2 linked regions of the Homo sapiens genome follow. The protein of the gene in region 1 interacts with the protein of each later gene in a pairwise test. Each region holds a gene or a part of one and is shown in the gene's direction. Other genes may lie near its edges. The genes, in order: OSER1 and LACC1.

Evidence for each region.
Region 2: the proteins of OSER1 (region 1) and LACC1 interact in binary tests that used the Homo sapiens proteins (3 or more experiments, as listed by UniProt).

Annotation. Positions count from the first base shown.
Region 1 is NC_000020.11:44,207,905-44,212,316, reverse strand, and holds the start of OSER1 (oxidative stress-responsive serine-rich protein 1), read left to right. Parts: upstream 1-1,545; 5' UTR 1,546-1,621; exon of another isoform or gene 1,622-4,412.
Region 2 is NC_000013.11:43,886,195-43,890,013, forward strand, and holds part of LACC1 (purine nucleoside phosphorylase LACC1), read left to right. Parts: exon of another isoform or gene 1-596; intron 597-2,562; coding exon 2,563-2,788; intron 2,789-3,819. UniProt on the Homo sapiens protein: Purine nucleoside enzyme that catalyzes the phosphorolysis of adenosine, guanosine and inosine nucleosides, yielding D-ribose 1-phosphate and the respective free bases, adenine, guanine and hypoxanthine.

The DNA of each region.
Region 1 (4,412 bases):
ATTTCCCGCTTTTTCTTGTCCAAGAGATGTTGAGAAGGGCAGTTTAAATCCTGACTTACTAGCACTGTGAGACAGGACAAAGGCAGCTAGAACAAGTTATCTGATCTCTAACATAATCTAATGCTATCTAACTAGCATCATTAGGTTACAATGAACAGTTTTCTTTCAACCGGTCAGTTACTGAGCCTCTGGTATGAACGACGAGAATTTAAAATGTTTTATCCAGGGCCAACATCATGCTTCATGTTTAACAACGTTATACAATAAATTGTTAGATTTCATTTACAGACATAGGCCAGGCATTCCAAAGCCTGGCTGTAGTTAAGCTGGACACAGTTAAACCATCTTCGGCAGCCTATCTAGTTGACTACAACTAAGGTATTGGGGAATGACGGTGGATGGGGCCAGTTTTGGTTCAGGGAAAAACCCTCACTCTAGGGGTGGGCCACAATCAACGCCATCCAACTCAATTGCGCAAAATCATCTGTTCTCACGAAGCTTTGAGCAGTGCAGACGTGGAGCTGGAGATTGGCAGGCGAGGAGAGGCACAGCTAGATCAGCAGAACCAGTCCTGGTGATGGAGCGGGTGGCAGCTGTTGCACAGATCACCTTTTCCCGCCTACCATCTGAGCAACATTCAGAATCAGAAAAATGTAAAGAATCCTAAAATTCATCTCCTTTGGTGAACTGCCTAAATCTTTTTGCAAAATTTGGTGTGTAGGTGCATTTCTTTGGCAAGAGGATCTACAGTTCTCACCAGATTCTCAAAGGAGTCTACGCCTGAAAACACGAGATTCACCGATAAGGTTCAACTTCCTCACTTACTAGATGGAAAACTGAGAGGCCCAAAGGAGGAAAAGCAGTTGCCTCAAGACAAACAGCAGAGATATCAAAACCGAAGGCATTTCAATTCAATTCTAATTCTGGCTTCACACTATTGACCCTGGCCACGTCCAATACCTCTTCACTTCTCTGCAGGACCTAAAAGATCACCAGGAGGCGAGGGCTGGTGTCCGAGTCCCGGAGAGGTCGCAGGCAGTCCAGATTCTAGCATCACAGAAACTCTGGCCAAGCGCTCAGCCGGGGATTGTCTGCCATAAAGACCCCCGCACCCTGTCCTCGCCCCCGCCCCGTGGAATTCCTCTGCATAGGTGACTCCACGTAGAGGACCGAGCGCAAGGAGATCCCGGGGCGGTGGAGGCAGAGGACTACTGTGAAGAATGACGCCTACTCACTCACCTAACAGAGAGGAGGAAGCAGGCACGCCCCAAAAGCGGGTCGGGAGCAAATCCACGCCACTGGGAGGAGGCAAACCGAAGAATAACAGGAAATTACGTAAGGCGCACGTGCTTCTGAGGGGGGCGGGTGCGGGGCGTTGGAGAGGCGCGGCCGCCGCCCTGCGTCTGCGCAGTCGTCGGCTGCCGCGCTGCCGAGTCACTGGGGTGGGAGGAGCATAAGCAGGGGGAGGGGTGCATGCCGGAGTGCGCAGGCGCAACGCGACTCCCGAGGCGCGGGCCGCCCCCTTGGCTGGTTTGGATCCGGGTCAGTCGGGTGCCGAGATTTGGGAGAGACGCTCTGAACTGACTGCCCCGCATCACCGGAGCGTCCCAGCTGCGAGGAGGTAAGTGCCCTGACGTGACGGGGAGGGGCCGCAGCACTGCGTCTCAGCTTCCACTGCCGGTCTGGCCGCGGGCGGTTTTCCCCGGGCCCGCCCGCCTTGGGTCGCGTCGTCTCCCGACGCCTCCTGCCTGGGCCGGGCCTGGGCCTCTCCGCGCCCCCTTATCTGCCGCGGCCTGTGCCTGCTGGAGCTCCGAGCTCCACGCTCTCTCCCCTTCCCGCCTTCCCGTCCTCCCGCGGTCCCCCGCCCCGTCTCGCTCCTCCGCCGTCTCCCGCCCAGCGGCAGCTTCCCCTTTTCGCCCTCCTTGGCCGCCCTTTGCCCCTTCCAGTCCTTTCTCTCTCGCCTCGGAGCCCCATTCTCTTTGGCTACCTCTTCGGCCCCACTCCTTTCTTCTCCCGCATCCCTTGTGCCTCGCTCCGACTCCAGCCTCTCGTTCTGACCCCAGGAATCTCCCGAGGAGCGCAACTTCACAGCTGGAGACCCCGGGCGGGCAGTGCCCCTGGACAGCTCCCTGCTTGGCGTTGTCCCCACACTCCAAGCCCCGTCCTACCCCTCTGGGTTCTGACTAGGAATTTTCCTCCGTTCATGTTTAACCGCGACAGGCACAGACTCTGGGTGAAAAGAAAGAACTTTGTGCTTTGGCTGCAGCGCTGCGAGTATAAAGGGATGAGTGGGTTGCACGGAGAGGTGTGAATGTGCTTTTTGTCCTGGGGGCCGATTGTTTCCTCCCGGTCTAGTTTGCCTCTTAGAGTTGCTGGGTTTGGTTTTCTTCCCCATACTCTACGCTTTCTGGTGGTCTGGGAGTTTCGAAATCTTTAATGTTGTGATGACAACGCTTACCCGCGCATCCCTTCTTGATCGTTCTTAGGTCTTCTCAGGGGCCTGGAAGTGTAGACCTAGGCTTGGGATTCAAGGAGGTCTTGGTTAAAACGGCAAGATGTAAATAAGATTGTGACGCATCCATTTTGTTGAAAGAAAAAACCAGGAATTTGGCCTTTTGATGGAGGAACTTAGAAGAACTTTGTAATTTTTGTAAGGTTGTGGAAAATCCGAGGCAAAGTTAAATTGCCTGGTGTGATTTGACTTTAACTTCGAATAGGCTTTTTAAAGTTTCATCTCTTTGGAGATTGTTCAACTTCACGAGTTCACTGCAGTGAAAACGCCAAGACTGTCTCCCACAAATTTAATATTAATGAAGAAAGGCAAGCCAATTATATCTGTTGTCCGGAGTTAGTTGTACAGCCCTTTCTTTGAATGGGGATCTGGGGATGCAGAGGAGCATAATGAGCCTTTTATAATTACAAACATGCTCTTCTCTAGCTCTTAAGGTTATGCCTAACGCTCATTTGCTCTTGGCTAAAATAACTGAGAAAAAAAGTGAGTAGTAAAAAAATGCTGGAAGTCTGAAAATGGTTTAGACAGAACTTCATTCCTGAAGTTTTAGTCTGTAGCCAGATTTTAATTCTGGCCTGTTTTGGTTTTTAGATGATAGATCTTTTAGTGTGTCAACAGGAATGTAAAGTTTGTATTAACATCTAGGGTGATCACCTGCCATGCTATTAAGTCAGCATGGTATAATTAAAAGTTACATATGTAGGTTCAGAGCCTCTTAGCACAGTGTTACATTGTAAGCTCTTGGAGGGCAGGAATGAGATTCTAGTCCTTACGGAAATGGAGTTTGGGCTTCTATCCCTAGCATTCATTCTAGTGCCATGCACGTGGTAGGAATTCTGTAAATATTTGTGAAAGAAATGAATTTCTGCCTGTAGGGTTCAGCAGTGTATACTTAAATGTGATGTGTACGTAAATGCTGACTGATTTCCAGAGAGGGCTAAAGAGGACTTGGGGGGCGGTCTGCGGGTTGGGGAGATTGGCTCAGATGATTTATGAACTCGGTAAGAGCTGAACATTGACTAACGGATCATAAGGTAATTGAGGAACATTGTAAGTCAAACTTCAATTTAGTTCTACCAGCAGGAAGGATTTGTTTACAACCTGCAATAGTACTCTTTTAGATGATGTGAAGCTTTGAAAATATTGAAATAAGTGATTGCTCACCTCTCCCCCCAGGTATATAGGAATTGATTGTGTATTTGGGGGATCCTACCCTAAACTGAGAATTAGAGACTAGTGAAGCATGGGATTGTGTGGATAATGTTTCTTCATGTTTATGTACTTAAATAAACCAGCAAAATATACGTCGAGAATGTATCTAAATTATTTTTTTGTCCTAAGAAGTTGAGGTGCAGGCTGGCTGAATTTTTTTTTTTTTTTTTAGTAGCTGAATTCTTTTGAGACTGTTTTCAGTGTTCCCCAGAGAGCTCTGCCTAAAATACCTTAACTTCCGCAAATAAGTAAAGTGAAAAGTCCTGATTCCTTGCCTCTTTATTTTGCGCTGGTACTACAATAATATAATGGTTACTTTATATCAAACATTATGACACCTTGACCTTTGGAATATTAGAGGTCTCACAATAACTTCGGAGCCACCTTGAGAAACGAGCAGATATGAATCAGAGAGGACCCAAGGGCCGTTGGAGAGGCACTGCTCCCTCTGAGAATGCCCAAGAGGGGTGGGGGCGGGGGGGGGCGGGTAAAGGCTTAGAAATAAAGAGGTGAAGTGAACCTTTTGCTTCAAATATTCTCTATTTCTATTTTTTTTGTGGTACTTTTCTTCTGATTCTCTCTGATATGTTCATAGATGCTGGTTTGCTTAATTTGTATTCAAAATTTGGTACTAATAACCCTGAGTGAAAAAATAATTTGGAGACTAGATTCAAGGGTTTATTAACAG
Region 2 (3,819 bases), on another chromosome or scaffold:
GTATATTTCTCAAAGAACTTAAAATTAGAACTACCATTCAACCCAGCAATCCCATTACTGGGTATATACCCAAAGGAATATAAATTATTCTGCCATAAAGACACATGCACACGTATGTTCATCACAGCACTTTTCACAATAATGAAGACATGGAATCAACTTAGATGCCCATCAGTGGTGGACTGGATAAAGAAAATATGGTACATATACATAATGGAATACTATAAAGCCATAAAAAAGAATGAAATCATATCCTTACAGCAACATAGATGCAGCTGGAAGCCATCCTAAATGAATTAATGCAGGAACAGAAAATCAGATACCATATGTATCCTTTAAGTGGGAGCTACACATTGAGTACACATGGACACAAAAAAAGGGACAATGGACATGGGGGCTTACTTAAGGGTGGTGGGTGGGAGGAGGGTGACGACTGAAGAACTGTCTGTTCGGTACTATGTCCACTACTTGGGTGATGAAATCGTTTGTACACGAAACCCCAGTGACATGCAATTTACCCATGTAACAAACCTGCATATATGTACCCCGAACCTAAAAAGTTGGAAGAATAAAAATAAATTAACTTTAAAATATAATATAATTAGCTACATTGTATACTACTTTTATCAGATATCAAAAAGAATAAAATTCTTCTATGGGACTAATTTAATAAAGATCTTTTAACTAGATATGTATATATAGATAGGCATAGAAAAATCAAATAGAAAGGAGGTGGATGAACTACAAGTGAGAGGATAACTAAGGAGGCTCACTGAGGAAGAGAGCTACTCTCATCTGTAGAAAAGCCCTGACAGTTTCTCTCTTTAACTCAAAATGCCTATATCTAGTTGCTTCCCTTTGAACATCACTGTCTGCATCTTCCTAGGTGCCTGAAAATCATTATGTCAAAAACTCAACATTTTTTTCCTAAAGTCTTCTCTGCCAGTTAGGTTTCCTGTTTTAATTATTGATATCCTACCCACTTACAGATAGAAACTTGATGTCTTCATTCTGTACTTCCCATAACCACATATTCAGTGGGTTACCTGTAGAGGCTGAACCTGTCACCTAAGTCCTTCTTGCTTTCATCATCTCCTTTTATCTGTAAAAATTGATCCCTTCACCTGAGTGCCTACCTTTTGAAGGGTATGAGTATGGAGTGCTTAAGGAAGGTGTAAGGGTACTCATTATTGGCCAACCATATCAGCTGAATCAAACCCAGATATAGGGAATAAAGGAAAAATGCAATATTCTTAGCTTTCTGTCTTTGGCAACAAGAAGGTAGCATAAGTAAAGAAGATGGTTTTATCTTAGAACACTGTAAGATGCAAGGCAGATAAGACAAAGATGGCAAGGGAACGATAGTCTGGGCAAGTGGGAAGGGAGTAAAAAGAGGCTGTTAATTGAAATATAATAGATATATTTTTGTAAAAAGGGAGAGATGAAAACTGCAAAACATTGCTGAAGGACATTAAAGAAGACACAAATAAATGCAGAGAAATTCTGTGTTCATGGATTAGAAGTTAGAGAAACGCAAATCAAAACCACAGTGAAATATCACCCCACATCCATTAGGATGGCTAATATTTTAAAACCTCAGAAAATAAGTGTTGTTGAGGATATGGAGAAGTTGAAATCCTGGTGCACTGGTGGTGGGAATGTGAAATTGTGTAGCCACTATAGAAAACAGTATGGCAATTTCTCAAAAAATTATAAATAGATTACCATATAATCCAGAAATTCCTCTTCTGGAAGTATATCCAAAATAACTGAAATCAGGAACTCAAAGAGATATTTGCACACCAATGTTGATAACACGATTATTCGCAATAGCCAAAAGGTGAAAGCAATCTAAGGTACATTGGTAGATGAATGGATAAGCAAAATGTGTGTGCATACAATGGAATATTATTTAGCTTTAAAAAGGCAGGATATTCTGACACATACTACAATATAGATGAACCTTAAGGACATTATGCTAAGTGAAATCAGTCAGTCACAAAAAGATAAATACTGTATTGATTTCACTTATATGATATACCTACAGTAATCAAATGTACAGGAACTGGAAGAAGAATGGTGATTGCCAGGGGCTGGTAAAAGGAAGAAACAAGGAGTTATTGTTAATAGTTGTAGAGTTTCCATTTTATCAAATGAAAAAATTCTGGAGATTGGTTATACAACAATGTGAGTTCAACACTACTGAACTGTATACTTAGAATAGTATTTTTTTGTGGTTATAATAGTAAATTTTGTGGGTTTTTAACCACAATCTTTTAAAATGTGAAAAATAGAAGACTAAGAAGCTATGATCTCAGTGGAAACTAAAAGTATAGAGCATCTTTAAATGGAAGATGAAGAAAACTCCCATTACATGTCTCTTCTGTGTCAGGTGCTTTGTGTAGTATGGCTCATTTAAAAACCACATGATAATGTAATTTATTATTTCTGGACTTTGAAAAATATACAAACTAAATCTGCTCACTTTTAACTTAGACATAAATTCAGGTGAAATTTTTTATGTTTTGACTTCTCTTATCTCTTTTTATTCCTATTTACCAGGTTGGAAAGGTACTTTGTTGGGTGTTGCTATGGCTACAGTGAATGCTATGATAGCAGAATATGGCTGCAGTTTGGAAGACATTGTTGTTGTACTTGGACCTTCAGTAGGACCTTGCTGTTTTACTCTTCCAAGGGAATCAGCAGAGGCATTTCATAATCTTCATCCTGCATGTGTACAACTATTTGATTCACCAAATCCCTGTATCGACATCCGTAAAGCCACAAGGTATGTCTGATTTCATTCAACTGCAAGTTTGATTATTTCTGATTGTTCTAAAATGAAATTTATTTTGGAGAACAATTAATAACTCTAAGAAGAATTTAGGTGGTGGTTATTTAAGCAGCTGACATGCACATGTACACAAACACTCATTTTAAATATGAAATCTGTTTTCATTTGAGTTTGAATAACAGAAATTTTCCTGTCTGGTATCTTTCATTGATTTAAAAGTGAAGGAAGAAATATTTGGCATTTAATTTTAAGAGATCTACTTAAACTTCATATAGAAAAGTTGGCGTGTACTTTACTTCACAGCCATTCCTCAGCTAAATTCTCCTAAATGTAATGAACTATCAGGAAGCTGATATTTTAAAATTATTCTTATTATCTAATTAACTAGAGGAATATGTTTTTTAGAAAAAATATTAGATAATATAAATACACGGTTTTTTACTTTTAAGTTTTTTACAGTTCTTCGCATCTTTTAATTTACAAGGTTTTGTTATTAATAACTGGTGAAAATTATTTGTCATTACTACAAAGGCAAATTAATGTATGTTTTAAATCATGTTTCTATTCCAGTCGCCAAAACTTTACCCAGAGTCTGCCTCATTTAGTACAGATGTGGAAAAGTTTGAAATTGATTCTTAAATGTGACTTTTAAAATCAAGTATCACTAACTTGTAGTCATATTTCATATCATAAAGTGTTCATGGAGAAGCAAGTTTTCTGAGAAAAATCTGGCTAATAGAAGGAAAGGAGATGAAGGGCCAGATGACTAAAAAGCATACTCTGGCTGAGCCAGGTGAATTTTGCCTGATATCCTGGTAACTTTTGTAGACATTTCTTCTTAAATAAGCACTTGATTTTGATTATAAAATTCTGTACCTAGATTATGTCTATAAGACAATATGGAAGGTTGTACTGTGCATATATGAACTTAGGTGATAAATGCTGATAAAGTGTAGCATTTTTTTCCCTGACTAGTCCATGTTCTGTAAGTGAATAACAATATACATTGTTCTAGGTACATCTTT